Linked DNA regions of Homo sapiens: regions 1, 3, 4, 5, 6 and 7 are each reported to be linked to region 2. The links are microRNA targets in miRTarBase. Many come from high-throughput screens and were not tested one by one. Region 2 holds a microRNA gene; each other region holds the end of a gene's coding sequence.

Region 1 (4,076 bases), not on the chromosome of region 2:
TCACTACCTTTATTATGGGCATAATTTTAGCTTGTTTCAATGAAAACTAAATTCTTCCTCAAAGATACTTCATAGTCCATTTGTGATTAATGTTAATTTCTTATCTTTTTCAGCATACCTGATTGATAAAGTCAGAATCAAAGGCTATTATGCATTCAAACTGGCTGAAGAGAAATCTAAACCCAGATTTGGATTCTTCACATCTGATTTTAAAGCTAAATCCTCAATACAATTTTACAACAAAGTGATCAGCAGCAGGGGCTTCCCTTTTGAGAACAGTAGTTCTAGATGCAGTCAGACCCAAGAAAATACAGAGTGCACTGTCTGCTTATTCCTTGTGCAGAAGAAACCACTGATATTCCTGGGTTGTTGCTTCTTCTCCACCCTGGTTCTACTCTTATCAATTGCCATTTTTCAAAGGCAGAAGAGAAGAAAGTTTTGGAAAGCAAAAAACTTACAACACATACCATTAAAGAAAGGCAAGAGAGTTGTTAGCTAAACTGATCTGTCTGCATGATAGACAGTTTAAAAATTCATCCCAGTTCCATATGCTGGTAACTTACAGGAGATATACCTGTATTATAGAAAGACAATCTGAGATACAGCTGTAACCAAGGTGATGACAATTGTCTCTGCTGTGTGGTTCAAAGAACATTCCCTTAGGTGTTGACATCAGTGAACTCAGTTCTTGGATGTAAACATAAAGGCTTCATCCTGACAGTAAGCTATGAGGATTACATGCTACATTGCTTCTTAAAGTTTCATCAACTGTATTCCATCATTCTGCTTTAGCTTTCATCTCTACCAATAGCTACTTGTGGTACAATAAATTATTTTTAAGAAGTAAAACTCTGGGGCTGGACGCTGTGGCTCACACCTGTAATCTCAGCACTTTGGGAGGCCGAGGCGGGGAGATCACCTGAGGTGAGGAGTTCGAGACCAGCCTGGCCAACATGGTGAAACCATGTCTCTACTAAAAATACAAAAAATTAGCCAGGCGTGGTGACAGTGGCACCTGTAATCCCAGCTACTTGGGAGGCTGAGGCAGAAGTTTGAACCCAGGAAACAGGTTACAGTAGGCCAAAATTGCGCCACTGCACTCCAGCCTAGGCGACAACAGCAAGACTGTGTCCAAAAAAAAAAAAAAAAGCAAAAGCAAAACTTTGTTTTGTTAGACTCTACAGCAGAGATTTAACACCCTTCTTTAAACTGGGTAGTCAGTGATAGATAATATATATTCTGTCACTTCTAATAAGGTGCCTTCTCCTTTAGGTCAGGGTGGTTCTAAAATGGAAAGAAAACACAATAGGGTAAGTAGTGCTTGTCTAAGCCAGTTACAACACAGACTCTTAAAGAGGATCAAGCCCTTCATTTTTCTAACAACAAAAAATCACCTATAGAATATCTAATTTGTGATCTTTTACTAGATCTGATTTTTTAAAATAATGTAATTTCCGGCCAGGCACGGTGGCACCGCCTGTAATCCCAGCACTTTGGGAGGCCAAGGCAGGTGGATCACCTGAGGTTAGGAGTTCGAGACTAGCCTGGCCAACATGGCAAAACCCCATCTCTACTAAAAATACAAAAGTTAGCCGGGCATGGTGGTGGGCACCTGTAATCCCAGCTACTCAGGAGGCCGAGGCAGGAGAATCGCTTGAACCCGAGAGGCAGAGGTTGCAATGAGCCAAGATCGTGCCATTGCACTCCAGCCTGGGGGACAGGGCAAGACTGTCTCTCAAAATAAAAAAAAATAATAAAAATAAAAATAAAAGTAATTTCCAAAACCTCATCTCATGGAAAGATCACAGGATGAAGGAAAGCTAGACTCAACTCTGTGAATAGAAGTTGCTATACTGTAAGTAAAGCAACAATTCAGAATACTGAATGAGTTTAAATTGTTTTATATAGCACCCTTTTGGGCTAGGGTTAATTACTAGATCTGACTTGGATAATTTGACACTTTGGGAAATGAACTCTGTTCTTGAGACTTGTTCAGTGTATTTTAAACATCTGAGGAAGAAAACTTAAATATGCACCTATTTATACCTATTCTTTCTTTAGGTCAACATTTAACACCCACTGCATACATTAATTTGTCCTTGTCTGCTCACTCCAGCAATTTAGACCTTAACAGTCACAAGAGACGTTCTTCTGTTACAAAGCCTTAGTAAATTAAGGCAGTTTTGATTATATTCTAGGTCCACCTATGTCTGAAGCTAAATTCAGTATCTAACTGCTAATGAACAAGTTTCCAAAATACTGTAAAAATACAATTAGTCAATTTGAGTAAATGCAAATATGATGAGAAATCAATTTGCTATTTGGCCTGGCAAATGGGAACAGTAAAATTCTGCTTTACTCTTCTCTAGTCTCCTTGCCCCAGCTGCACCCACTACCCCAAAGTTGGCAGTTTTGAGGTATGATTTTCAAGGAATTTTTTTAGTATTAACATCTCCCTCTGAGAACTATGTACCTAAGGTCACGCATACAACTAGTCAATTCTGTTTTTATTACTCTAACTATGTAGAAACAGTAAGTCACTTAAAACAATCACTTGGCTGGGTTTTTTCCCCTTTGTGCCACATTGATTCACCCTGACCCAAGAACTCCAGGGAAAATTCTTTAATGTCAACTGGGCAACTCATTAACCTCTCTTTAACATCAAGGGCTTGGGAAAAAAAAAAAAAAGGTTAGCCACAGGAATAACAAAAACCTGGAATTTATCTTTCAGGTTTTGCTTTCTCTTTCTCACTTTGTTTAAAGTATCTCGTACTCACAGTTCACAAATTAACCTTCACTGTCTCTTTCACATTAAGAGCTTATGCTTAAAGCATGCCCCCCTTTTCTAACTTGCTGGTTTACCATAAACTCCCCTAAGTAATAAAATTCCTAACCCAGTACTGAGAGTCCTCCTTCTCTGCCACTTGGGCATTATTTTACTAGTTTTTAAGCCATCATCGCACAAGAATCCAAAAACCCTTAAATTTTTTAACCACTGGCAAATATGTACAGCAAATTAGGTTAAGCATTTAATCTGGCTCATGCTCTATCATACTAAATATTCAGGTTTATCATAAACTCCTTAAAAACCATCAAAGGTCAACCAGAAACTGATAACTCTTGAAAGGAGCAAACAGGTAAGATCTTTGGAGTTTAAGCTTTTCTGAGATGTGTTGTGAAAAATCTAACGTGTTTATCGTATATTCAATGTAACAACCTGGAGAATCACAACTATATTTAAAGAGCCTCTGGAAAATGAGGCCAGTACAGTGTGACTACATGTTTAATTTTCAATGTAATTTATTCCAAATAAACTGGTTCATGCTGACCACTTGTATTCAACTAACAACCTGGTCAATTTTAAGAACTGTTGAATGTGAATGGGTTTGGCATTGTAAATGGGCTCTGCCCCAAGACTGCCTCCCCTGAATCCCTTTCTGCCTAGTTGTGCACCAACTTGGTATGTTACTTCTGGGTATATTTTCTCAAAAAATGTGGCTCAGGTGTGGTGGCTCACACCTGTAACCCCAGCACTTCGGGAGGCCAAGGTGGGCGGATTGCTTGATTCCAGGAGTTTGAGACCAGCTTGGGCAACGTGGCAAAACCCTCTCTACAAAAAACTAGCCAGGCATGGTGGCACGTATTTGTGGTCCCAGCTACACAGAAGGCTGAGGTGGGAGGACTGCTTGAGCCTGGGAGACAGAGGTTGCAGTGAACCAAGATCACGCCACTGCACTCCAACCTGGGTGACAGAGACCCCGTCTCAAAAATATGTGGACACCTACATCTAAAAATTGCAAAAATAGTGCACAAGTGCTTATCCATAGTAGACACAGAAGACAATAATTAAGTTTTCCCTGGAGAACTAGGCTCATTTGTTATACCCAAGTTATTAAAAAAAAAAAATCACTGTTTAGCTACAGTCTCTTAAGTTACCTTATGAAGGTCAGACCCAGCATGCCAGTCCATTTCATGCTCAAAGAAATCTCATTTACTCCCACAGCAGCTACTCCCCATAAGCTGATCCTCTCATGAGCATCTCCACCCCACTAGAATATTGCCACTTGGAAATTTCT
Region 2 (4,076 bases):
GTAGTCCTGGCTAGTCAGGAGGCTGAGATGGAAGGATCACTTGAGCCCAGGAGTTGGAGGCTGCAGTGAGCCATGATGCTGCCACTGCAGGACAGAGCAGACCCTGTCTCTAAATCAAATAAAAATTAAATAAGGGCTATGGGCTGGTGGGCACAGTGGCTCACACCTGTAATCTCAGCACTTTGGGAGGCGGAGGCAGGCAAATCGCTTGAGGCCAGGAGTTTGAGACTAGCCTGGCCAACATGGTGAAACCCTGTCTCTACTAAAAAATACAAAAATTGGCCGGGTGCAGTGGTGTGCACCTGTAATCCCAGCACTTTGGGAGGCTGAGGCGGGCGGATCACCTGAGTTCAGGCATTTGAGACCAGCCTGGCCAACATGGTGTAACCCCGTCTCTACTAAATATACAAAAATTAGTCCGGCATGATGGTGTGCATCTGTAATCCCAGCTACTCAGGAGGCTGAGGCAGGAGAATCGCTTGAACCTAGGAGGCGGAGGTTGCAGTGAATGGAGACTGTGCCACTGCATTCCAGCCTGGGCAATAGAGCGAGACTTCGTCTCAAAAAAAAAAAAAAAAGCCAGGTGTGGTGGTAGGCTCTGACTGTAATCTCAGCTACTTGGGAGGCTGAGGTTGCAGTGAGCCGAGATCGAGCACTCCAGCCTGGGCGACAGAGCGAGACTGTCTCAAAAAATAAATAAATAAACAAATAATAATAATAATAATAATAATAAAGAGCAATGGGACCCAGCAGAAGGATTTGAAGCAGGAGTGGGGAGCATCTGGTTATGCTAGAGAGGAAGATTCATGAGTGAAGGTGAAACCAGATTACCTCATCTCCCTCCTACCCCAGCCTAAGGTGCTGGGCGACGTGTGGGGCGAGATCGGAGGCTAGCCGGGCTTCACGCCTGCGCCCCCAGGTAGCCACGGTCTCTGCTGCCCCCTCGCGGCTGCTTCTTGCCTCGCAGGCCCTGATCCTTTGGATTCGGTCCGCGCAGAGCGCCAACTGGACATGGTGCTAGAGGTTGGGTGGTCAGACACTGTGATCCCGGGTGCTGTGCCCGCACTACGGGAAGGGGAAGCAGCGCGTGGGTCTCGCATCAGGAGGCAAGGCCAGGACCCGCTGACCCATGCCTCCTGCCGCGGTCAGAGCCCAAGTTTGTCAAGGTATTTTGGATCCCGGAGAGCGAGAACCCAGACGACGACAAAATCTACTTCTTCTTTCGTGAGACGGCGGTAGAGGCGGCGCCGGCACTGGGACGCCTGTCCGTGTCCCGCGTTGGCCAGATCTGCCGGGTGAGGAGTCCCTGGGCCACACCCGGCGACCCTGCCCCTACCCCTTTGCCTGCCCTGGTCTCGCCCTCATCCCCTTTGATCGTCCCGGCAGAACGACGTGGGCGGCCAGCGCAGCCTGGTCAACAAGTGGACGACGTTCCTGAAGGCGCGGCTGGTGTGCTCGGTGCCCGGCGTCGAGGGCGACACCCACTTCGATCAGCTCCGTGAGTGCGGGAGTGGGTATGGGGTTGGGGAGGGGGGCAGCGGCGCAGACTCCGGGAGCCCCCGCCGCAGCGGGGCTGTGCGCCCTACCCCAGCTAGGCCCCTTCCCCGCAGAGGATGTGTTTCTGTTGTCCTCGCGGGACCACCGGACCCCGCTGCTCTATGCCGTCTTCTCCACGTCCAGGTGAGGGGCAGGAGGTAGGGAGCGCCCGGGGCGGGCCGCTGGGCTCCACCCGGCCCCTCACCTCGCCCTGGTCTTCGCCTCCAGCAGCATCTTCCAGGGCTCTGCGGTGTGCGTGTACAGCATGAACGACGTGCGCCGGGCCTTCTTGGGACCCTTTGCACACAAGGAGGGGCCCATGCACCAGTGGGTGTCATACCAGGGTCGCGTCCCCTACCCGCGGCCAGGCATGGTTCGTAGCCCAGGGACTTCTGCTACAACCCACTTCAAAGCCTCAAGGGTTTGAGAACTTGGCCTGGGGTCTTCTTGGTGAATGTGGTTTCTTCCTTTAGTTATGGGTGGGAAAACGTTTCCATCATAAGACAAGGCTTGTTTCCCGCCTCTGACTTCCTAGGGCAAGGCTGATCTCCTCTCTAATTCTCAGGGCAGGGTTCTGTCCCCATCCCCCTCCATGTTCCCAGAGGCTGGGCATGGAGGGCTGCCTATCAAGCCCCCATATCTATATCCCTGCTGTGCCTCCCTTTCCCCCACCCCCAGTGCCCCAGCAAGACCTTTGGCACCTTCAGTTCCACCAAGGACTTCCCAGACGATGTCATCCAGTTTGCGCGGAACCACCCCCTCATGTACAACTCTGTCCTGCCCACTGGGGGGCGCCCTCTTTTCCTACAAGTTGGAGCCAATTACACCTTCACTCAAATTGCCGCGGACCGGGTTGCAGCCGCTGACGGACACTATGACGTCCTCTTCATTGGCACAGGTCAGGGTCCCTCCACAGCGACCCCCAGGCTCCCAGCCAGGCCCTGTGGGCTGCTGATGGAAGCTCTCCCTGTTCAGTCCCATCTCCACATCCTTTCCTGGGCTGTGTCTCCACCCTGTGGATGCTGCCCAACCCACACTCTTCCAGTCCACACTCTTCACAACCCAAACATGCTGAGGGTAGACGCCTCAAAGGCGAGGAGACACTAGCCCCAGCTGTCCGGGAGCACCAATGGTCATTACCCCTTCTCATCCCTGCAGACGTTGGCACGGTGCTGAAGGTGATCTCGGTCCCCAAGGGCAGTAGGCCCAGCGCAGAGGGGCTGCTCCTGGAGGAGCTGCACGTGTTTGAGGTGAGGCCTCACCCCCAGTCGCCCGGGACCCCCCCACCCCACTAAGCCCTGACCCCGTCGCCCCTCCTCCCTCTCAGGACTCGGCCGCTGTCACCAGCATGCAAATTTCTTCCAAGAGGGTGAGTGACCAGGATGGGGGTCGGGGTGGGATGGACTGAGCTTGTGCCTGGCGCGTCCCAAGCCTCTGGCCCCTTTTGGTAGTTTGCAGTCCCGGGTTTGAGTACAGGCTCTGGCTTTGTTAGACTGTGTGACCTGAGGCGTAAGACCTCAGTGTTCCCATCTGTCGAGTGGAAGAAGGGATCCCTGACCGATGGGAGGCAGGCGTGGGGTCGCCCTCGGTCAGCCCAGAGCCCCTCGTGCCCCCTAGCACCAGCTGTACGTAGCCTCGCGGAGCGCGGTGGCCCAGATCGCGTTGCACCGCTGCGCTGCCCACGGCCGCGTCTGCACCGAATGCTGTCTGGCGCGTGACCCCTACTGCGCCTGGGACGGGGTCGCGTGCACGCGCTTCCAGCCCAGTGCCAAGAGGTGGGCGGGGTCGGGGTTGGGCCGCCGGGAGGGAGGCGAAGGGTCTTTCACTGCCCGGGGCTGAAAGAAGGGCTCACAGAAGATCGGATGTTCCCCACAGGCGGTTCCGGCGGCAAGACGTAAGGAATGGCGACCCCAGCACGTTGTGCTCCGGAGGTGAGTGCCCCAGCTGCCCCTACCCTCAGCCCCAGAAGACGCCCCACCTGCCCTGCCTTGCCTAAATCTGACTTTCTTCTCGCCCCAAGACTCGTCTCGTCCCGCGCTGCTGGAACACAAGGTGTTCGGCGTGGAGGGCAGCAGCGCCTTTCTGGAGTGTGAGCCCCGCTCGCTGCAGGCGCGCGTGGAGTGGACTTTCCAGCGCGCAGGGGTGACAGCCCACACCCAGGTGAGCCTTACTCCGCCCTCCCCGCCAGGCTCCTGTCCCACCCCCTGCATCCAGGAGAGGCCCCGCCCTACCCAACGAAGCCCCGTCCAACCAGACCCACTCCCCGCCCTGTCCAGTTTGGTCCCTCACCTGCACTCCACAAGCTGCTGAGGCCCCATTGCGTCCAACGGGGCTCCCGACCCGCCTCCCCTGAATCAAGGAGAAGACCCGCCCTCGACCCTCCCATTAAGGTCCCTGACCACCCCCCACCAAGTTCATGTAAACCCCGCCTCTTTCGGATTCTCCCTTGAAGACCACCAGCTCCCAAACACTCAGCCTTAAAATGTGCGCCTGCGGGCACCCCTTTCCCGCTCCACCTCGGCTCCCAATGACTCTTTGCT
Region 3 (4,076 bases), not on the chromosome of region 2:
GAAGGGTGTGGCTAGGAGGGGAATCCAAGCATGGAAAGGTAAGTTGGGACCTTTCCACTGAGGCCTCAAAGGCAAGACCCCAAGGAATTTGGCTACAGTGGGGGCATTAGGGCGACTTGCACCTCTGTGGGAGCTGGGGTTCTGGGAAAGGTATGAAGCGACGCAGCCACGGTGGATGCCATGCCTGGGATCCACTCCTGACTCTATCTTTGTCCCCCTAGAGTATGCAGAGAACATCGGGGACGGCCGGAGCCCGGAGTTCCGGGAGAACGAGCAAAAGCGCATCCTGGGCTTGCTGGAGAACTTCTAGAGGCACCTTGGCCCTGCGCATCATGGACTCTCTCAGCTTCCCTCCCAGGATCAGTTTCTACACAACTCTGTGTGGCTTTTGGACAAATTAAAGCTAGTTTTGGTATCCCCGGGCCAGTTTTCTTTGTAGTTAAGCTTCGCCTGCTGACCCTCCCTGCCCCCTCCCCACAGCAGCTACTTCAGGACTCCCCCAGGGAAGGCACATGGGCAGCCTCACTCCGCCTGCAAGAAAGCTGAGGCTCAGAGGGTGTAGCAGTGACAACTTCGCCACTGTGGCTACGCAGGTGGTGCTGCTGTGAGGCTGGACTGGGGACCCGCCTAGAGTCTAGATGTGGGACCCAAGGCCCTGGCCTCATGCTCCAGTTCCCTGGGGAGGCCAGCCACACAGCACAGCCCTCAGAGCATGCAGAGCCCTGCCGCGTGTCAGACCACTCGGGTGGGGGCTGCATGGAGAATTACCAGATCCCAACGTGGGCCCCACCGCAAAAATAGCATCCAATCTCTCAGTGAGGCCCTGGCATTTGGGCTGTTTAAAGCTCCCAGTGGTTCCGTGCATCAGGGTGAGAGCCACTGCTTTAGAGTGGACAGGTTTGGGTCCATCTCCCCACTGCATCATTACCAGCTGTACATTTTGTTTTGGTTTGGGTTTTGTTTTTTTTTTTTGAGACGGAGTCTCCCTCTGTCGCCCAGGCTGGAGTGCAGTGGCGCAATCTCGACTCACTGCAAGCTCCATGTCCTAGGTTCACGCCATTCTTCCGCCTCAGCCTCCCGAGTAGCTAGGACTACAGGCGCCCGCCACCATGCCCGGCTAATTTTTTTGTATTTTTAGTAGAGACGAGATTTCACCGTGTTAGCCAGGATGGTCTCGATCTCCTGACCTCATGATCCACCTGCCTCGGCCTCCCAAAGTACTGGGATTACAGGCGTGGGCCACTGCACCTGGCCGGTTTTGTTTTGTTTTTCTTTTTAAGACACAGGGTCTTACTTTGTGGCCCAGGCTGGAGTGCAGTGGTGCAACCACAGCTCACCGCAGCCTTGACTTCCTGGGCTCAGGCGATCCTCCCACCTCAGCCTCCTGGGTAGCTGAGAGGGAGGTGCCACCACATCTGGCTGATTTAGCTGTACATTTGGATAAGTGACTTTCACCTTTCTGAATCTCACTTCTTAAACTGCACAGTGGGGCCAATAATACCCATTTGCTGCTGAGGATGGCATGCTCAGCAAGCCTGCAGCGCAGTGATGAAGGCACAGTCGTGGCTTGGTAGCTGCTGCTTCCTTTGGTTCTTCCCACACACATTTGTGACTTCAGAATTGTGATTTCAGGCCAGATGTGATGGCTCTCGCCTGTAATCCCAGCACTTTGGGAGGCCAAGGCGGGGAGGATCTTTGAGCTCAGGAGTTCGAGACCAGCCTGGGCAACATGGTGAAACCCCATCTCTACAAAAAATAGAAAAATTAGCCAGGCATGGTGGCACATACCTATGATCTCGTCTACATGGGAGGCTGAGGTAGGAGGATTGCTTGAGCCCAGGAGGTCAAGGCTGCAGTGAGCTATGATCATTCCTCTGTACTACAGCCTGGGCAACAGAGCAAGACCCTGTCTCAAAAAATAAAAAAGAACTGTGATTCTACTCATTCGACATAGGTGATGAGAAGGTTGGTTTCCCCCTCAGAAGTCAGCAGTGCTTTAGCATGTTTTTAATCAATCCTCAAAGAACAGAGTCCCCATGAGTGAGGAGGCAGAAGAGTGGCCAGATGAAGAAAGCAGCATTTCATTCCAATGCATTGTGCAGCCCAGGGTCACAGACAGGCTGCTGGGGATGCTACACGCCTCGCACTGTGTCCCTGCCCCTCTTGCTGCTCCCTAGACCCTGAGGGACAGGGCCCCAAGCGGCCACTGCCATCAGGCCAGAGTTGACATGCTGGGTGAAACCTGTTTGCCATCCCAGGAAGCCACCGAGAGGTCCCTGAAGAAGATGGCACCTGCTCTGTGTCCAGCCTTGGGCTGGTGACGGAACAGAGAGTAAGGCAGGCCCTGCCTGCTGGTGCTCACTTGCAGCCTGGCGGGAGAACAATGCATAACTGTAAGCGTCCCCACAGAGAGGGGCAGGAGAGCGCGACAGGGCCTGTCACAGGATCAGATGGCGGTGCCGTCACTTTGGGTCTAATTCTTCCTTGACTTTTCTGTAACTGTAGTAGCTGGCACATATCGAATGCCCAGTGGCATTGTTATCCCCGATTTATGCAAGCTGAGGCTGAGGGCTCAGAGAGGGTAAGTAGCTGCACAAGGCCCTGTGGCCAACAAGCATCAGAACGCACATTCTAGCCAGGCCTGTCCGACGGCGCAGTTCACACCCTCTCCCGCTGAGCTCCTCTACCTGGAAGGGTCACACCGTACCGGCTGACGCCGTGCTCCGATCCTTTCATCTGTTGTGTGGTTTAATGAATTCACAAAAAATAGAGCATGTCCAGGTGTAACTTAGAGAAGCAGACTTCTAGAGCTAAGATCGGTACTTTAGACATCATCAGTCCTTCACCTTGATTTTCTTTTTCAATTTTAATTTTAACCAGGTAATGCTTGCAAACGGTATAGGAGTTCAAAATTTAACAAAAAGCGAGGCAGTGAAGAGTCCACCCACTCCTCTCCCATCGCCTAGGACTTCCTGCCCCTGGAGGCAGCTGCTGCCATCTGATTCTCCTCCAGAGTTCTGTCCAGCATTTTGCCAGCCGTGTTTGGAAGCCCAGGCTACCCACCAGCTCCCAGAGGCCAGCATAGGAAGGAAAGGCCGGGGCGGCTCAGGCACTCCATGGTTGCCGCACCTTGCCCTGCTTCGCATGTGGCAGCCTCCTGAATTCTGTCCCTTTGCTAAAAGCAAGTTGGAACTCTTCTCTTGACAACTGAGGAAGCGGTCCCCTTTTCCATTAGTTTTGTGTGCGGAGGGTTAGGGGCAATGTGAGGTGTAGTCCCTTCGGGTGCAGCAGGGGAGTACGGTTCCAGGGCCCGAGGGACCAAGGAGACAGCGTAAGGAGAAAGCAGCCACCACCACTCCCTGATTTCAACGACCCAAGGCCCCGCAAAGCTTTTCAGGGCGAGGTAGAGCTCCTCATTGCTCACCCTGGGCTCTTGGGGCGTGGTCCCAGCTTTCAGGCAGCTCGCTGTCTGCCTAAAAAACCCTCTGACTCACAAAGCAGCATCTCTCCTCTGGGGGAGCTTCTTGGGCTTCCAGGAAAGGCTGCCCTTGGCCTGTGGCTCCGAACCTGACTTCTTTGCCCACTGAAAGGGCTCAGTCTAAATTTGCCCCTTCAAACAAAGCTTCTTCATGTTCATCCTCATGTCCATAGCTGAGTGGGACCAGACCATAGCATCCAGAGAGGCAGTATTCCTTTTCCAACCCAAACATGGCAATCGGATTGCCTTTTAGCAATATTCGCCAGGGTTTCTTCACAGGGGAAATAGGATTCCACCCTCATTTTCCATGGCGGCTTGCTGCTCCGTTTGTGGTGGTCGCACGCCTGGAATCAGCAGCAGCAAGATGGGCCGTCTCTAATTCACAGAGATTTGCATGCAGGCTGCGTGCCTTCCTTATCTAGGGAGACGCATTGTCAGGGCCGCTGGAAGGCATCCTTCAGTCACCCCCACGGTAGCACCAGTGCACAGGTGGCATCTTCTGCCATTACTGAGGGCGTCAATTTAGTGTCAACAGGGAGACGAGACTCGCTTTCCTAAAGGCAAGGCTTCTTGATTAGATTTCCTTACCCAACAGTAG
Region 4 (4,076 bases), not on the chromosome of region 2:
CATTGTTGGCTGGGCACGGTGGCTCACGTCTGTAATCCTAGCACTTTGGGAGGCCAAGGCGGGCAGATCACTTGAGGTCAGCAGTTTGAGACTGGCCTGGCCAACATGGTGAAACCCCGTCTCTATTGAAAATACAAAAAACAGCTGGGCATGGTGGCACACGCCTGTAATCCCAGCTACTCAAGAGGCTGAGGCAGAAGAATCGCTTGAACCTCGGAGACAGAGACTGCAGTGAGCTGAGATCGCACCACTGCACTCCAGCCTGGGTGACAGAGCAAGACTTTGTCTCAAAAAAAAAAAATTGTTAAAGCAACATCAATTCTATCTATGTGACATTACCAAAGAAAGCATTATACCATTTGTGTCTTGGGGGGGTTAGGGACAGGGACAAATAGTCAACCTGGTGGTTGCCCTGAGGCTCGCCCCTTCCCCCATCCTTTCCAGTATCCTGCCTGAGCAACCTTTTGTTTCTGGTGCACAAATACGACTGCTGGGCCTGTTTTCTTGCAAAGGTACTTTCAAACATAGCTTGTATTGCCTTTATTCATTTTTTTTTTTTGAGACGGAGTTTTGCTTTGTCACCCAGGCTGCAGTGCAGTGGCACAATCTCGGCTCACTGCAACCTCCGCCTCCCGGGTTCAAGCGATTCTCCTGCCTCAGCCTCCTGAGTAGCTGGGATTACAGGCAACCGCCACCACACCCGGAAAATTTTTGCATTTTTCGTAAAGACAGGGTTTCGCCATGTTGGCCAGGCTGGTCTTGAACTCCTGACCTCAGGTGATCCACCCACCTCGGCCTCCCAAAGTGCTGGCATTACAGGCGTGAGCCACCCCACTTGGCCTTGTATTGCTCTTAAAAACAAATAAACAAACAAAAGACTCAGGTGCTTGTAATCATCTATTCTGCGGCTGAGAGAATATCGGCCATGGCCCGCAACCAGACAACCAACCTGTTTCCAAACATGAATATTTTAAAATATTAGACTTTTGTTCTGGTAACTTGGAAATTCAAAAGGAATTTCCGTATTGAAGGATGACATTATGTAATATTTTAAACTCGAAATTTCTTCACACCATTAAGGTTTTTCAATTTTGAAAGTCAATGTTCCTCCAACAATAAAACAAGAAAAACATCTCATTCTTGATGGGGACAGATAGGGACAGGTTTTTACACTAACTTGAGCAGTGGGGAACAGGAAAAGATTGCTCTCTGCAAATGGTGTGATTTCACTGAGGAACACAACAGATCCTTTCTCTCTGTGTAAATCAGCCAACCTATTCTGTGATCACCATTACAACAGAATTTGTGTATGCAAATTCCCGGCTGGGCCTTCTCCTGTCATCCTCCCAGCGGCTCCCCCGCCCTGCTCACGCTACTGAGACACTGGCACCTTACCTCAGACCAGAGCCCAGCACTAAACCTCTGGTTCCACTGCACAGGATCTCAGTTCTTTCTTACATCCTGAAGTTTTGTGCCCAGTAACACAGGGGACGAGGTATAAGCTTCATCCAAAACAGTGTTGTGAAAATGTTTTGACTACAACTTTCAGTAAGAAATGAATTTACGCTATGATCCGGTATACACCTGTGCACACATGTGCTGCACACACGTAAACAAGTTACACAAAACATTTTCCTTAGCTATGTATGGTACATTGTGATCATTTTTCTCTTACACCATTTCATTTTTTTAAATGCTGGTTTTCCGCACTAGATCAATGTCACAATCCACTAATGGGTCCTGACCTGGAGTTTGAAACACATGAATATGCAATGCTCTCCCATTATGAGACATGTCCTAGTCCCTAAGCTAATCTACTTGGAACTGTAAAATTCTAAGAAACAGAAATAGATATTTCAGTAGAAATAATAAAAAAGATTTCTTTTCACTGGCACATACAAAATGTGAAGTTGAAAATCATTCTGAAATTAGCCAGGCATGGTGGTGCACACCTGTAGTCCCAGCTACTCGGGAGGCTGAGGTGGGAGGATCACTTGAGCTCAGGTGATAGAGGCTACAGTGAGCTATGATTGCATCACCACTCTCCAGTCTGGGTGACAGAGTGAGACCCTGTCTCTCTCTCTAAAAAAAAAAAAAAAAAATTTAACTTTAAAAAAGAAAATCATTCTGAAGAATTGGTGGACACAGATGTTATAACTACTCAGAACACAGGCAAACACAGGCAGTTTGCGAGGGAGCCTAAAGGAAGAGTGAGGGCACTCACTGGAACCCAGCCCATCTGAACAGAGGCAAGGAAGACTTTGGTTTATTGACAGGGTCTCACTCTGTTGCCCAGGCTGGAGTGCAGCGGTGCAATCAAGGCTCACTGCAGCCTCAACCTCCTGGACTCAAGTGATCCTCCCACCTCGGCCCCTCAAGTAGCTGGGACCACAGGCATGTGCCACCACACCCGGCTATTTTTTTAATTTTTTTTTTCTTTTTTTGAGACAGAGTCTCACTCTTGTCACCCAGGCTGGAGTGCAATGGCATAATCTCAGCTCGCTGCAACCTCTGCTTCCCAAGTTCAAGCGATTCTCCTGTCTCAGCCTCCCCAGTACCTGGGATTACAGGCGCCCGCCACCATGCCCGGCTAATTTTTCTATTTTTAGTAGAGATGGGGTTTCACCATGTTGGCCAGGCTAGTCTCGAACTCCTGACCTCAGGTAATCCTCCCACCTCAGCCTCCCAAAGTGCTGGGATTACAGGCATGAGCCACCGTGCCCGGCCTATTTTTTAAATTTTTTGCAGAGATGGGATCTCCTTATGTTGCCCAGGCTGGTCTCGAACTCCTGAGCTCAGGTGATCCCCTCACTTTTGCCTTCTAAAGTGTGGGATTACAGGCATGAGCCATGGGGCCTGGCCAGGGAGACTTTTCTATCCATGCTGCACGGCAATCTTGTCCTCCTTTTGCTAGAAGAAATAAGACTCTTGGGGCTAGGAAGAACCTTAAATGTCAAATTCCATTTTCTCTTGTCAGATGACAAAAGTAAATCAGCATTTCCTTTAAAAATCGGAGCACTGACTTTGGTCCTATTCAAAATAGCTACCTTCAATTAGAATTAGGGTAAAAAATGATTCACCATAATGTTGTTTAACTTTCTCTCTTTTTTTTTTTTTTCAAATTACTAGAATTTTATTAGCCAAGGGATAGCAGCTGGAGGAGAAATAACAAAAAAATACATCTTAAGAATCCTTAAGTACAGTGCATATTTACAATTTAAGTGTCATATTTTAGAAGGCCACTGTCCATCAGCTCAGTAAATGTACCAGCTTCTAAAGCCATGATGCCATAGGTCCATTTGTTGATGAAATTCCTACCCACTGTCCTCGGGCATCTGACTCTGGTCTCTGCACTGGCATCAAGAGAACGCTGCTCGGTGGTTTAAGGCTAACACCTTACAGGGTAACACTGTAACACTGGCCCTGGAGCCAGGTGCTTTTCTCCATGAAAACTTCCACCTTGGTAGCTCAGCCGACATAGACAACACACAAAGCGCAGCTCTGCACTTCTGTCCTTATCTTCACACAGTGACATCCACACCAGGTGGCCAAACAGAAGAGAAGGCAGAGGCCCACCAAGAGCTGATGCTGCGCAGTCCTTGGGGGATCATCCTCCGGTCTCACTGGGGACGAACCCAGGTTCTGGAGCCTCTCCCCTGACAGACAGCTTGTCACCGGCACTTATGGGTCCTCTGGGATTTCAGACAATACCCAACTTCTGTAGGTTCAGAAAGTGCTTTCAAGCAGGCAGTGGCACCCACACCCGGTGGGACACACCTCCTGGGTCCGAAACCACTCCATCATGTGGCTGGTGTGGCCACCGTGCCCACAGGTCAGGCAGAAATTGGACGATCCCCGCACAGCCACGTGACAGATGGCACACTGGAACGTGAAGCCTTTGCAGATGGCACACTGCGTGCCACGGACCTCACTCCGGCAGTGGCTGCAGTACACGCCGAACTCTGGAAATGGGCAGGGACGGGCAAAACAAGAGGCAGCATGAGTTTAGTTCTGAAAAAGGAAACTGGGGCTTGCCAGGAAGAAGGAAGTCTTCCTCTCAAGACTCTAGCAGATTC
Region 5 (4,000 bases), not on the chromosome of region 2:
CTTTTCAGTTTGGATTATACTTGGAAAAAGGTTAATCTATTTACCTTCCCCCTCCCCCTTAATCCTAACCTCCCTCAGAGCATCGAACTGGCTCCACACAAAGTCCTCGGACACAACCTCGAGATGAAGACTACGAAGGGGCTCCATGGAATTGTGATAGCTGCACCTTTCTTAACCACCCAGCACTAAATCGCTGTGAGCAGTGCGAGATGCCACGGTACACCTGAATTCAGAAAAGTCTGCGCCAGGTTGAAAGTGAAACTTTGAGCACTACCAGAAGAAAAGGAAACCTCGGGACTCTATTCATCCACCCAGCCTTTTCATTTTCGATTGCACAGCGGGGAGGAGGAATGGCTTTGTGGTCGTCGTTGTGCTCACGAAAGGAAAAATGGGGAGGTCTTTTTTTTCTCCTTTCTTAACTCACTACAGAGTGAGAGATAGAAAGGGATACTTGAAACTGGGAAAGGATTCACTCTGTGAAAGAATGTACACACAGAAGTCAAGAGCTCTTCTGTGGTGGAATCCCAATTGTTAAAGTTACTGCTGAGTGGCCCTTATTTTTTAAAGTAGTACTTTGAATCATAGTATGAAATGCTACAGTTTATGCAAACTGTGAATTCCCAGAGCAGACTTACCTGGTCACCGCTCTCTGGAAAACCAAGGCTCCCCGTGCTTCTTCCCATTGCTTCCTACTAAAGAGGACAACAGGAAAAAGCACCTAGAATATTTGGGGGGGGGGGGCAAATTAATTAAGGGTATTTGTAATTGCTGCTTTTTTCAGGGGTAATTTCCAACACACATACATGCACACAAACAAAATGTTTTAAAATGTGATTTGTAGCAGTCAGGAACTAGGCATATCATGCCTTTGTTTAAAAGTACAATCAGAGGTGGTAAGATGCCTTTGGCTTGTACAGTGTGATTCATCGAGCTCTATCAACACTGGTAACTAAGACCTACTTATGCCACATAAGAGATGCATTTTTTTAAGTTACTGCATGTTTTTATTAAGGCCATTGGTTTTCAAAATAACAAGTCCTTACAAAGTATGATTTTATAAATGATATTCTCGTAAAACTGCGCTTTGCCAGTAGCACAGTGAATGTATGCCAAATGCAAGTCCATTCCAAAATCCATTTGGAAATCTTGAGCTCAGCTGTGGTTCTTAAACTTTTGCAGTCCATAGGGCCTTTTTTTTTTCCTTCCAATTTTGTGATAAATTCATGATGTTTACAGCACAGATAAAACTTTGTGCCATAATCCTAATTTAGCTGAAATCAATATTAACTGTTCAATAAAAACTTACTTGCATATGTTAACAAACCAGTGTGAGGGGAATTACAGTTGGCCAACGACAAAGTTGCACACTGCATTATTTAGGAAAGGAGGGATTGTCAAAAATTATTAAGAGAAAGGTGAATATAGAGGACTTTGAAACAACTTTTAAAATTTAACATAACTGTATCTAGAGGTCAATTGAGTCTCTACAGGCAGTTCAGATCATTTTAAAGCACTCCTTATTTATGAAATAGAACTTCAGGGTGCGGATAAGAGATATAAAGTCATGTGACTCACTAGGGTGCATCGCTGGAAACTTAATAGCACATTTCATTAAGGTCTCTGCCATTGTTGGAGTTCCTTCTTAGCTCAGAATTGGAGTTTTGGAATCTTCCCCTCATTTTGGTGAGTATAAACAGCAATAAAGTTAGTAGGTTCTCCCATCCTAAAGGATTTTACCTGAGGATATCGTCTTAGGAATATCCATAGACGCTCCCATCAGGTTTCTCCCCCAACCCCCCTACACCGCCCCCCCACTTCTAATTTAGCAGTAATCTCTGGCAGACCTGGAAAAACAAGCTGCTCTTAATAGCATAATGAAACCAAAGGCGTAATAACTCATCATAGTTTTCCATCAGAATCATTTCACACTCTGCCTACAGCTTTGAAAACATTTTTTCATATGTGAAAAACTCCCCAAAATATATCCACTAGTCTCCCAAAGGAAGCATGGTAATTAACACTGATAAAAACATCTCTCACACAACAACTGTGGCAAAACTGTGAAAATAACGGTGAGAAAGCAGATGGGCTTAAAAGCATGGTCCCCAAAACAACGTTCTTCAAAGGTTTTTGTAACACTGGTCTCTGTCTCCAATAACAGTCTAGCCGTCCTACTGTTCTGTAATATGCCTTTGCCTTTGTATGGTTTCATATCTCTTTAGTGATGGTCAACCCCACTTGGTTTTAAGTTACAATTTAGGGGAAATATATATATATATACTGCTTGGTGTCCTAGCTAAAAGGTTTACCAGTATTCATAGTGATATGCTGAAGTGGAGGCAATTAACTTGGCAGTTGTCAGTTGAGAATGAAAGTAGCATGTCTGAAAACAGTCTGATGCTTTATAAAACCATGTAGATGACTTTAAAACTATTGCATGAAAATACATCAAGGTTAATAAGCTGTTATACAGTAGATGCATGGTTTCAATCCTTTGGTGATATTATCTAGTCAATCATTGTTTTCACCTGCCAGGAAAAGAGAGAAAACAGTCTATTGGATAGGTGTAAAGGGTGGGGTATGCGGTATCAGATTGATTTTAAGGAAGTTTTGTACATGTTAATTTTTAATTGTGCACAAGTTTCATATGCCAACATAGGCTGTATTCAGTTTTAAAATAGGCAAAATGACTTGACACTGATAAATCTGGTATGTTTAACTGTGTCCCATATGTAGACTGCTTTTTGCCTATGACCAGTTTGAACAAGAATTCACCCAACTTTCAAGATGCCTTTTCAAAAGGATCTTGTAGTCAGTTGGTATGTACAGACAATTGGCATGGAAGTGGTAGGATATAAATCGGATGACGCCTGGCTGCTGAGGTGCCAGCTGGATCAGCTGGTGCACTTCTTGTTTCTTGTAAGAGGTTTCTTTAAAATGACTAGTTTGATGTATCTGGTAACATATAGGCCTGACTATACATTTTACATTATTTCGCTATTTTGTAAACTGGGATTTTAGAAAGCACGTTTGCCATTTTGTTAAAGTACATTGCCCCTTAAATTTTGGAGTAGTTTTTAAAAGTTTAAAATGGTAATAGAGGAGCCAGAAACTTTTTAAGCATTGTAAAATGTTTTGAATTGATATTGACTTTGTTTGGAAGAGAGTAGAGGCAGGGGGCTTTAAAGAAACAAAGAAATGCATTGTAAAAATGTAGTTTTAGAGCAAATTAATAATGATGGTGGGGAAAGTGTTGCTAATTTGTTTATTTCCCTGGAAGAAATGGGAAGTGTGATAAGCAGTTTAATTTTTAAGGAGCTGGTCTCAATTTTAGTACTTTTTAATTATGCAAATAAATCAATGTTTCCTTAAATTTTGTCATTGCTTTGTCACAGTTGTCTAGGGTTCATATCCAACCTTCTGTGGCAATTCAATTTTATATAGTCTTTTAAGAGGTAATTGTAATGTATTTCTGACAGTATAAACAAAAAGAATATAAGGCATAGAAGAATTGTCCTCTAAAAATATCAATGATGTATCCTGGAATGTGAAGATGTCCCTTTATAGTTAAAAATTGAATTATTTTAATATTGTACCATTGTTAGACCTTGAATGAGTCCATGTTACCGTGTGTGTCTGTATATCTATCTGTAGAGAAAGAAAAATGACAACTGAAATGTTACTTTTAAAAATCAGAATAAATTGGGCACTGTCTGTGTTGCACCACTACTGTATCTTTTCGAAAGAATTAACAGTATTTGCCTATTGTAAAGGTTAATTCTGATGACGTTTTCACATTCACCAGACTTTTTTTCCTGTATTATTTGCATCCCCAAATATTTAATACAAGTAGATTCTGCATGGCTTGGGCATTCAGAGATTAATAGAATGATGACTCAATTTTAATTCTAAAGCCATGAAAAGTTACTTTGAGACTGAACAATTCTGAATTATTTATGATACCCAATGTCCATGTTTCTTTCCCTACTGTAAAAGAATT
Region 6 (4,076 bases), not on the chromosome of region 2:
AATTGCAGCACCAGGCGCTGGGTGTCTCTCCCAATGCACCTGGACCACTGTAGGCGCTCCCTGCCTGGCTGACTGAGGTGTCACTAACGGTTTCTCTCTTCTCGCACCCCACCCTCCCCGCCCGTGCCCTGTCCCCATCCCTGTCCCTCCCCACCTCTGCCCCCTCCTCTCCACCTTCTCTTTGCTGGCGCCTCCCGCTCTCCAGTGCGACCAAGACCAGTGCATTCAGAGCACCAAATTCGTTTTGCAGGCTGCAGCCACGCCCCTGCTGCAGAGCGAGCCCAGCCTCACCAGCGACGAGCTGCACCTGCCCGGGAAGCCTGGCCTGGGCACGCCCTGCGCCAGCCTCACACTGGGCCCGCCCACACCGCCCGCCTCCATGCCCAACCTCGCCGAGGCCACGCTCGCGGACGTGATGCCCCGGAAAGATGAGCACATGGGCCACCAGTTCCTGACGCCCGATGAGGCGCCCTCGCCCCCCAGGCTACTGGCGGCGGGCAGCCCCCTGGCGCACAGCCGCACCATGCACGTGCTGGGCCTGGCCAGCCAGGACTCCCTGCATGAGGACTCTGTGCGCGGCCTGGTGAAGCTCAGCTCCGTGTGACCCACATGGCCCCAGGCCGGGGGACACCAGAGGCTCCTCCATGGGCAGCAGGAGTGAGCGGAGGGGTGTGTCCCACAGCGACTTTCCCAGCCAATGCCACGGTGGAGATGACAGCCCCAGGTCTGGGGTACAGAGACCACTTAGGATGGCACAGGGTGGCTGGCCCCGGATGCTGAGAGCTTGGTTTCATTTGAATTTTCTTCCCCAACCTGAGTGCTTTGACAACAATGGAAATAGAGAAGTGGCTGCTTTCTTTTGGTGACCCTCCAGGGGTGGAATCGGAGTGTGTCTGCCCGCCCTTGTGACAGACACACGGAAGGCTTCTGACGCTTGTGGCCAGACTGCAATTGCACTTATGTGTTATGCTACTAATATTTGAAACAGACCTGCCATTCCATTTGTTAATTAAAAAAAAAAAAAATCCTAAAGGGAAAAAACCGACCAGGTGTGGATCTGCATGCCACGCTGCCGTCTGTGTTACAGTGGTGTTGCTATTTCCAAGGAAGTGCTGCTTTCTTTTTCTTTTTTTAATTTTGTGAATTTTCAAGTGCTGTTTTGTTGGAAGACAGTGCAACGAACTGAGACTAATGGACAGTGTCATCACTCAGCTTACTGGGCTGAGGCGTCTGTGGAGAGGTGGCACCGGGGCTGCAGAGGGCGGCTGGGGTTCCGTCGTGTCGGGTGTCACTTCACCTTCTGTTTGGCCGCTCGATGAGGTCTCGTGTTGAGATATTGTGTGCCACAACCCCCACAGTCTTCACCTCCGTGTGTGATGAAACTTCCCGTGGACAGCCAATAAAATGACGTCCTCTGTTATTTTGGATCTGCGTACGGTTATCCTTAATAGCATAAATGAAAACAAAGTCATCCAGATGGGGAGAGTTTTTCTTGAAATGTCCCTAGCGAGGAATGGTCCCCAGACAACCAAAAGTCAAATCTTTGAACTGGGAGATATTTATAGAATAATTTCTTAGATAAGAGGCAAGTTTTCCATCATTTATTTTCTTTAATTATCTCTTTTTGACACCATCTTAGTGGAATTTGCTCTACGTTTGCAGTTTGCCGTGCAACAGTTGATCGGAAGTAGGGAGAGGGGAGGGGACGCTCAGGGAGAAGGTTCTGTCGGGCGTCTTCTGGGCTTCCTTCTGTGTTAACGTGTCACTCAATCCCAGAAGTGCAACTTGAGGTCCTAGTAAAGGTATCAGAAAATGAGGAGGAGAAATCGGCTTACAGTCTAAGCTGAGATCATGTAGGTCATCATCCTTCCTAGACACTGATCAGAATGAAATTAAGAAAATGACCACTTTGTTCACTTTCATTGGTCACCTAGAAGGGAACGAACTGGCTCTGGACTTAGGGAGTGTGTCACTATGGGGGCAGCCACAGGGGACACAGCAACTCCTCTCCTGGCTTCTTTCCAGACCATAAATCTAACAGCTAAAGCTACTCAAGTTCAAAGCCATGGCCTTGCTCCTTATAACCATATGAAAGACAAGACACATTGACCAATGATACAAGTAACCCAAGTGATTTGCATTTATGGAAAAAGGCTATTACTCCTGAGAAAGAGTTGCCATTTTATATAAAAGAAAAGAAGATAGGAAAAAGAAAAGCACACAAGTTTTATTTGGAATGAAGGCAATTCACAGGTCACAAAATAATTCATGCTGAAAGGGCCTGCAGAGTTCTTGCACTGTGATGTCTTCGAGCCATCTTTATTGTCATGCTGCATGCACGTATAGAAAATGGAATAGGTCCATTCTATGTAGCCATTTTTGATTTTCTGAACCACCTAACTACTTGTACCCACCTGCAATGTGTAATTCATGGGGCAGTGCCCTCCTTACACAACCGCACACGCTCACAGGCACCAACTCACAGGGATTCTCCTTGTCCACGCTACCTGTGAGCCCAAAGTGACAGCCCCACAAAGGAGCTTCCACAACTTCCCAAACCGTCTCTGCTCCTTGCTTTCTTCCACCTGCTCCCCAGAGGCCCCAGGAAGGAGTTGGCCCTGATGAGAACGGTGCTCCATGGGTGACCGCGAATCCGGCTTAGCCCTCACTCCGGTCCCACGTGTGGCCCAGTCCATTCTCAGCTCATTCCCCTGGAAAGCAAGATCATGGTCTTCAGAGGCCTCCCGCTTCTAACATTTCCTAACTCAGTGGTTGCCACTCTCCTGTGACCAGCCCTTCTTCCCACCTCACTGTGAAAAATTCCCAGAAGCCAGGATCACGACTCACTTGTCTTCACATAATGGATATTTACTTAATATTTATTATCAATTTCCCCACCTCCAACCCTGTCCCTGGCACACACTTGGCATCATTTATCCAATAGGGGACTGGGAATTTTGGTGAAGTGAATCAAGGCTATTCAGGGTCAAGAGAGAGATTAACTTGAATGGGCCAATTTGCTAGATAATTAATGTCTTAAAAACCAAAACCAGAGAGAAGCCCACAGCCCTGTCCTCTGTGGCTTGAAAAAGAAACCCAGCATCAGAGGAATGAGCGATGATGCCCCCTGGGGCGCCCACTTCTGTTTGTCAGGAGGGATGGTCGGAGGGGCAGCTCACCTGGCGAGGTGATGGCTCTGCATTTCCCACGAACATATATGTGACATGTACATAAATATAAATACTTATGTTTATAAATGTTGAATGGTTCCTTCTAGCTGTGGCTGAGTAGACGTTGGTGTTTCTAACTTCTTTCAGTGTGTTAGAGATTGATTACATGCTAGCTATAAAAAGTAAAATAAATATTTTACCATGCTATTAAAGCTTGGACCATTATCAAACACACACAAACACACACTCATTCTGCTGTTTAAAAATTCATCTGCGTTCGTTCTCCCAGGAGTGCTCCAGGGAACCACAGGCTTCCCGGCACTTGAAGGCTGAACTGAGCGTGAGTGCCCTGGTCCCCAGGAAGCAGGCGGATGCTGCAGGAAGGTGGCAGACAGCCTGCATCCAGGAGGGCCCCAGGAAGTGGGGATGCTGCAGGAAGGCGGCACAAAGCCTGCATCCGGGAGGGCCCCAGGAAGCAGGGGGATGCTGCAGGAAGGTGGCAGACAGACTGCATCCAGGAGGGCACAGTGACCTGTCACTCCGTTCTGCAGAAATTGGCCCAGCAGTTGCGTTATGCCCAACCAAAAGATGCTCGTTCCAGCTTTCAAATGTGATGATTTCAGCCTGTGAGGACAATGCCATGTCCCCACCCTAAGCCAGCAAAATGCGAAATCTCTGTTCTGGCCCAGAATGGCACAAGGGAGGAGTCTTTGCAGAGTTCCACGCCACCCCCCAGCTTACTGCGGCCTTCACCGGCTCTGTCTAGGATTGCCAGCTGTGGTTCCAAGTGAGGAGCAAACCCATTTTATGAGCCATGTTCCTGCGGAGACCTGATGGGCCAGGCCTTCTGTGGCTTTGAAAACCCCTAAGCTCTTCACCTCCTGGGCCTAGGCCTTCTTGTCTGAC
Region 7 (4,069 bases), not on the chromosome of region 2:
TGAATCTTAGACTCAAATTCCTTTTGCATTTCAAAGCTAAATAGTGTCAAGTCCAATGTCCCTTTTCTTTACAGTATATACAAGTGTCTCTATCAACATTAGGTTTTGAGGTTGAGTGCAGTGGCCCACACCTGTAATCCCAGCACTTTTGAGAGGTGGAGGATCGTTCAACCCCAGGAGTTCAAGACCAGCCTCGGCAACATAGTGAGACCCCATCTCTATAACAAATAAAAAACATGCCCGGGCACGGTGGTTCATGCCTGTAATCCCAGCACTTTGGGAGGCCGAGGTGGGCAGATCACTTGAGGTCAGGAGTTCGAGACCAGCCTGGCCAACATGGCAAAACCCCTTCTCTACTAAAAATACAAAAATTAGCTGGGCGTGGTGGCATGTGCCTGTAGTCTTAGCTACTTGGGAGGCTGAGGTGGGAAGATCACTTGAGCCCAGGAGGTTGAGGCTGCAGTGAGCTGTGATCATGCCACTGCACTTTGGCCTGGGCAACAGAGCAAGATTCCATCTCAAAAAATAATAAAATAATAAAAAAATTAAAAACTACATAAAAAACAAAAAATTAGCGAGGTGTGGTGGCTCATGCCTGTAGTCCCAGCTACTCAAGAGGCTGAGGGGGAGGATGGCTTGAACCCTGTAGTTTGAGGCTGCAGTGAGCTACGATCATACCACTGCACAGAAGCCTGGGTGATAGAGCAAGACCCTGTCTCTAACAAACAAAATTAGGTTTTGTGATTCCAGTGGTCCTGATAGGATAAACTTTTTGTCTCTAATGATTTAAGTTATAGGGCCCTAAGTTTTCATTGTATGGATTTGATTTTTTTTTTTTTTTTTGAGACAGAGTTTCGCTCTTGTTGCCCAGGCTGGAGTGCAGTGGCACGATCTCAGCTCACCGCAACCTCCGCCTCCCAGATTCAAGCGATTCTCCTGCCTCAACCTCCCGAGTAGCTGGGATTACAGGCATGTGCCACCATGCCCGGCTAATTTTGTATTTTTAGTAGAGACGGGGTTTCTCCATGTTGATCAGGCTGGTCTCAAACTCCTGACCTCAGATGATCCACCCACCTCAGCACTCAAAGTGCTGAGATTACAGGCGTGAGCCACTGCGCCCGGCCTTGATTTTATCTTTCATGGCATCCTCATGATATACACTATCTCCTGGAATTCTATAATTGAGGAATGTTTTTGAATCACGTCTCTCATTTCTGGTCTCTGGATATTAACTAGTGGCCAAGACAGAAGCAGATCAGGGGTGATAGTCTTTTCCATACATTTTCTAGCCTGGGTCTGTCACGGGAGATGGATTCATCTCTATGTTGCCTACACTTCTGGACCTTAGACTAAACAGAGGGATAGGCACTGGGGATGGAGTCTAAGAGCCTTTCCCCAATAGTCTTAGCAACTATGCCTCAGAGGTATACTGCTCCTTTGGATACCTTCATTTACTGAGGCTCGTTTAGCATTTTCAAATCAAAGAGCTGCATTTTGGCCAGGCGCAGTGGCTCATGCATGTAATCCCAGCACTTTGGGAGGCCTAGGCAGGCAGATCGCTTGAGCCCAGGAGTTTGAGACCAGCCTGGGCAACATGGTAAAACCTCTGCAAAAAATCCAAAAAATTAGCTGGGCATGGTGGCATGTGCCTGTAGTTCTAGCTACTCAGGAGGCTGAGGTGGGAGGATCACTTGAGCCCAGAAGGTCAAGGCTGCAGTGAGCTGTGTTCATGCCACTGCACTCCAGCCTGGGAAACAGAGACCCTGCCTCAGGAAAAAAAAAAAAAGCTGCAGCTCTGGAACCATCAGATGGACAAGGTGATACAAATCAAATTGGAAAATCCCAGAGTAAGCTCCCAGTATTAGCCTAAATTGGCTACTAAATTCTTTCCTGTTTTCCTGGGTTTTTTAAGGCTGTGTTGCCCAAACTGGACTCGAACTCCTGGACTCCAGCGATCCTCCCACCTCAGCCGCTTAAGTAGCTGGGAATACAGTCACCCGCCACCATGCCCAGCTTTCAGATAGGTCTTTGCAGCACGTAAGTCAGAGCGTTCTGAAAGTCTGAAGAAAACTTGTTCAGGTCCATGCTCGGATCGTTCACCTTCAGCTGTGGAAGGTGGAGGACCATGTGTTAGGGTGTTACTGGAGAACTGGGGAGGTGGAGGGCTGGAGTCAAAGGTAGAGAGAGGTGGATACGTGTTCCCTCCAGTTCATTCCCTCTGCCTTCAGTCTTTCAAGGCCAAGATGAAGCCTAAGAGGTCACCTCTGATTCCCCACTCTCTCTGACCCCTGAGCTCATTCTAGGCTGCCCAAGCCTCCCAAACTCCCCCAGTCCAGCCCTTCCCGTTCTGGGTCATCACTGTCCAGGGGCAGGTATGTCTCTCTACTGGCAGGGCAGTCCTTGGCTGTCTCAGTCACCACTGTGTCCCCAGCATCACCCAGCTCAGTGACACAAAGGAATGAGTGAATATATACTTCTCTATTTCATAGATAGAGAAGTCATCACATCAACATAAAATAAAATACTGAATGTTACGTATCAGTTTTCTAGTATGGATCAGACTTGGGCTAACTGCATTTTATTATTTGACTTTTGAGACAGGGTCTCACTCTCTTGCCCAGGCTAGAGTGCAGTGGTGTGTGATCTTGGCTCACTGCAATCTCTGCTTCCTGGGCTCAAGCGATCCTCTAGCCTCAACCTCCAAGTAGCTGGGACCACAGGTGCAAGCCACCACACTTGGCTAATTTTTGAACTTTTTGTAGAAAGGGAGTTTCACCACGTTGGCCAGGCTGCTCTCAAACTCCTGAGATCTAAGGGATCTGCCTGCCTCGGCCTCCCAAATTGCTGGGATTATAGGCATGAGCCACCACACCCAGCCTGAATTAATAGTTGTGATTAGTAGTAACACCACCACCAAATAAAAAATCAGTCATCACAAACCATGAGATTACTTTTTCTCCAAGTTCTCTACCCTCCAGTCACATTCCTTCCATCTCTCCCCAGTTTCCAACTCCTCCTCCATTACTCCTCCCTCTCCCTTCTCATCTTCTCTCCTGGCACTCTTCCTGTATATTTTCTACCCCAGCTCGTCCTCCTTCCAAGACTCCTCTCCCATCAGTCCTCTCTCCCCACCCCTTCCATCCTTCCTCTTTTCAGGCAGTCCTCCTTCCAGATGAACTCCATGTTGGTACAACAGAGTAATGATTCGAGAGTGCCGTGTGCTGAGATCAAGGCCATGGGGCCAGAGATGAGTCCGTTTTAATTGCTGGGGAAACAGGGAGGGGCCTTGGAAATAGCTCCCCCCACCCCACTCCCCACGTGTCCCATCCAGTTTGGGCAGGAAGCCACTTTCCCTAGAACAGTTCATTGCTGGGATCCTGTGAAGAACCGCTGTGGAGGGCAGCAGCTGGACGAGGGCACAGGACCTCAGAGAACACTGATGCGCTCCGCCAGCCCCTGCATGTCGTGGTCCTGTGGTGGACAGGCCCCACCGAGATCCCTGTCCGTGGGCAGCCCAGACCCAGGCAGCGGATGCTCTGCTGCAAACTGCTCCCAGCGCGCGTCGTCACTCTCATGCGTGATGTATCGCTCTCCCATCTTCCCCTCCAGCTCTCGGAGGTCCAGCCACGTCTGGTACTCCTGGGCCCGAGAGAACTGGGGTTAGCTTGGGGTCTGCATTGGAGCAGTGCCTGGATATCCTCTGGTTTGCCACTGAGAGCTGGGTACCAATGAAGGTGAAGCCATACCCTCTGCAACCCACCCAGCCAGTAGACATTTAGCTCCACCCCCTCTTCCTGCACCCAGCCAATGGGAGGCCTAGCCACATTCCAGACCCAAGGAAACCTACATCCTTCACAACCTGCCTAGCCAATAAGCGATCTACTCCCACCCCTTCCTCCAATCCAGCCAATGGGCCAGCCCTGCCCCCTGCATCACCTGTAACCAGGGGTGGCTGAGAGATTTGTCCACGCTGTAGCGTTTGCGCATCTTCACCTGCAGCAGGTTGTTGATGAGGTCAATGGCTGCACAGGAAAGAGAAACAGGTCAAGCCCTACAGGTCAAGGGTCAC

The links. Region 2 holds the annotated microRNA hsa-miR-6872-3p (CCCAUGCCUCCUGCCGCGGUC, at 1,127-1,147, shown strand). A microRNA usually pairs through its seed, bases 2 to 8, with sites in the 3' UTR of a target mRNA and lowers its output. Matches are read on the target gene's strand: a 7mer-m8 pairs with bases 2 to 8, a 7mer-A1 pairs with bases 2 to 7 and ends in A, and an 8mer does both.
Region 1: miRTarBase lists KLB as a target of hsa-miR-6872-3p. Seed matches in the 3' UTR shown: 7mer-m8 at 1,596-1,602.
Region 3: miRTarBase lists CTNNBL1 as a target of hsa-miR-6872-3p. The part of its 3' UTR that is shown has no 7-base or 8-base seed match.
Region 4: the mRNA of WDR59 is a reported target of hsa-miR-6872-3p. Seed matches in the 3' UTR shown: 7mer-A1 at 2,878-2,884 and 7mer-m8 at 2,581-2,587.
Region 5: the mRNA of TAB3 is a reported target of hsa-miR-6872-3p. Seed matches in the 3' UTR shown: 8mer at 2,836-2,843.
Region 6: miRTarBase lists ZDHHC14 as a target of hsa-miR-6872-3p. The part of its 3' UTR that is shown has no 7-base or 8-base seed match.
Region 7: the mRNA of PRKD2 is a reported target of hsa-miR-6872-3p. The part of its 3' UTR that is shown has no 7-base or 8-base seed match.

The regions. Positions count from the first base shown.
Region 1 is chr4:39,448,188-39,452,263 of GRCh38, forward strand. It overlaps KLB (klotho beta), which reads left to right. Exons shown (of 5, transcript NM_175737.4): 5 at 114-3,346. The coding sequence ends at 499. Among named protein-coding and RNA genes, the nearest start is that of RPL9, 8.7 kb to the right of the region's middle.
Region 2 is chr3:50,272,149-50,276,224 of GRCh38, forward strand. It overlaps MIR6872 (microRNA 6872), which reads left to right and starts at 1,088; the gene lies at 1,088-1,149. SEMA3B (semaphorin 3B) reads left to right here. Exons shown (of 17, transcript NM_001290060.2): 7 at 1,150-1,295; 8 at 1,387-1,498; 9 at 1,611-1,680; 10 at 1,765-1,909; 11 at 2,215-2,434; 12 at 2,695-2,786; 13 at 2,864-2,905; 14 at 3,154-3,311; 15 at 3,412-3,467; 16 at 3,557-3,696. RefSeq lists enhancers at 1,027-1,226, 1,205-1,728.
Region 3 is chr20:37,871,704-37,875,779 of GRCh38, forward strand. CTNNBL1 (catenin beta like 1) reads left to right here. Exons shown (of 16, transcript NM_030877.5): 16 at 222-415. The coding sequence ends at 310. Among named protein-coding and RNA genes, the nearest start is that of VSTM2L, 29 kb to the right of the region's middle.
Region 4 is chr16:74,870,483-74,874,558 of GRCh38, forward strand. It overlaps WDR59 (WD repeat domain 59), which reads right to left. Exons shown (of 26, transcript NM_030581.4): 26 at 880-3,962. The coding sequence ends at 3,727. Among named protein-coding and RNA genes, the nearest start is that of FA2H, 98 kb to the left of the region's middle. RefSeq lists enhancers at 989-1,537, 3,743-4,076.
Region 5 is chrX:30,827,654-30,831,653 of GRCh38, reverse strand. TAB3 (TGF-beta activated kinase 1 (MAP3K7) binding protein 3) reads left to right here. Exons shown (of 11, transcript NM_152787.5): 11 at 79-4,000. The coding sequence ends at 227. Among named protein-coding and RNA genes, the nearest start is that of TAB3-AS1, 5.0 kb to the left of the region's middle.
Region 6 is chr6:157,672,519-157,676,594 of GRCh38, forward strand. ZDHHC14 (zDHHC palmitoyltransferase 14) reads left to right here. Exons shown (of 9, transcript NM_024630.3): 9 at 206-4,076. The coding sequence ends at 604. Among named protein-coding and RNA genes, the nearest start is that of MIR3692, 150 kb to the left of the region's middle.
Region 7 is chr19:46,671,097-46,675,165 of GRCh38, forward strand. PRKD2 (protein kinase D2) reads right to left here. Exons shown (of 18, transcript NM_016457.5): 17 at 3,937-4,022; 18 at 3,220-3,639. The coding sequence ends at 3,427. The region is part of intron 2 of DACT3-AS1 (DACT3 antisense RNA 1); the gene reads left to right. Among named protein-coding and RNA genes, the nearest start is that of DACT3, 12 kb to the left of the region's middle.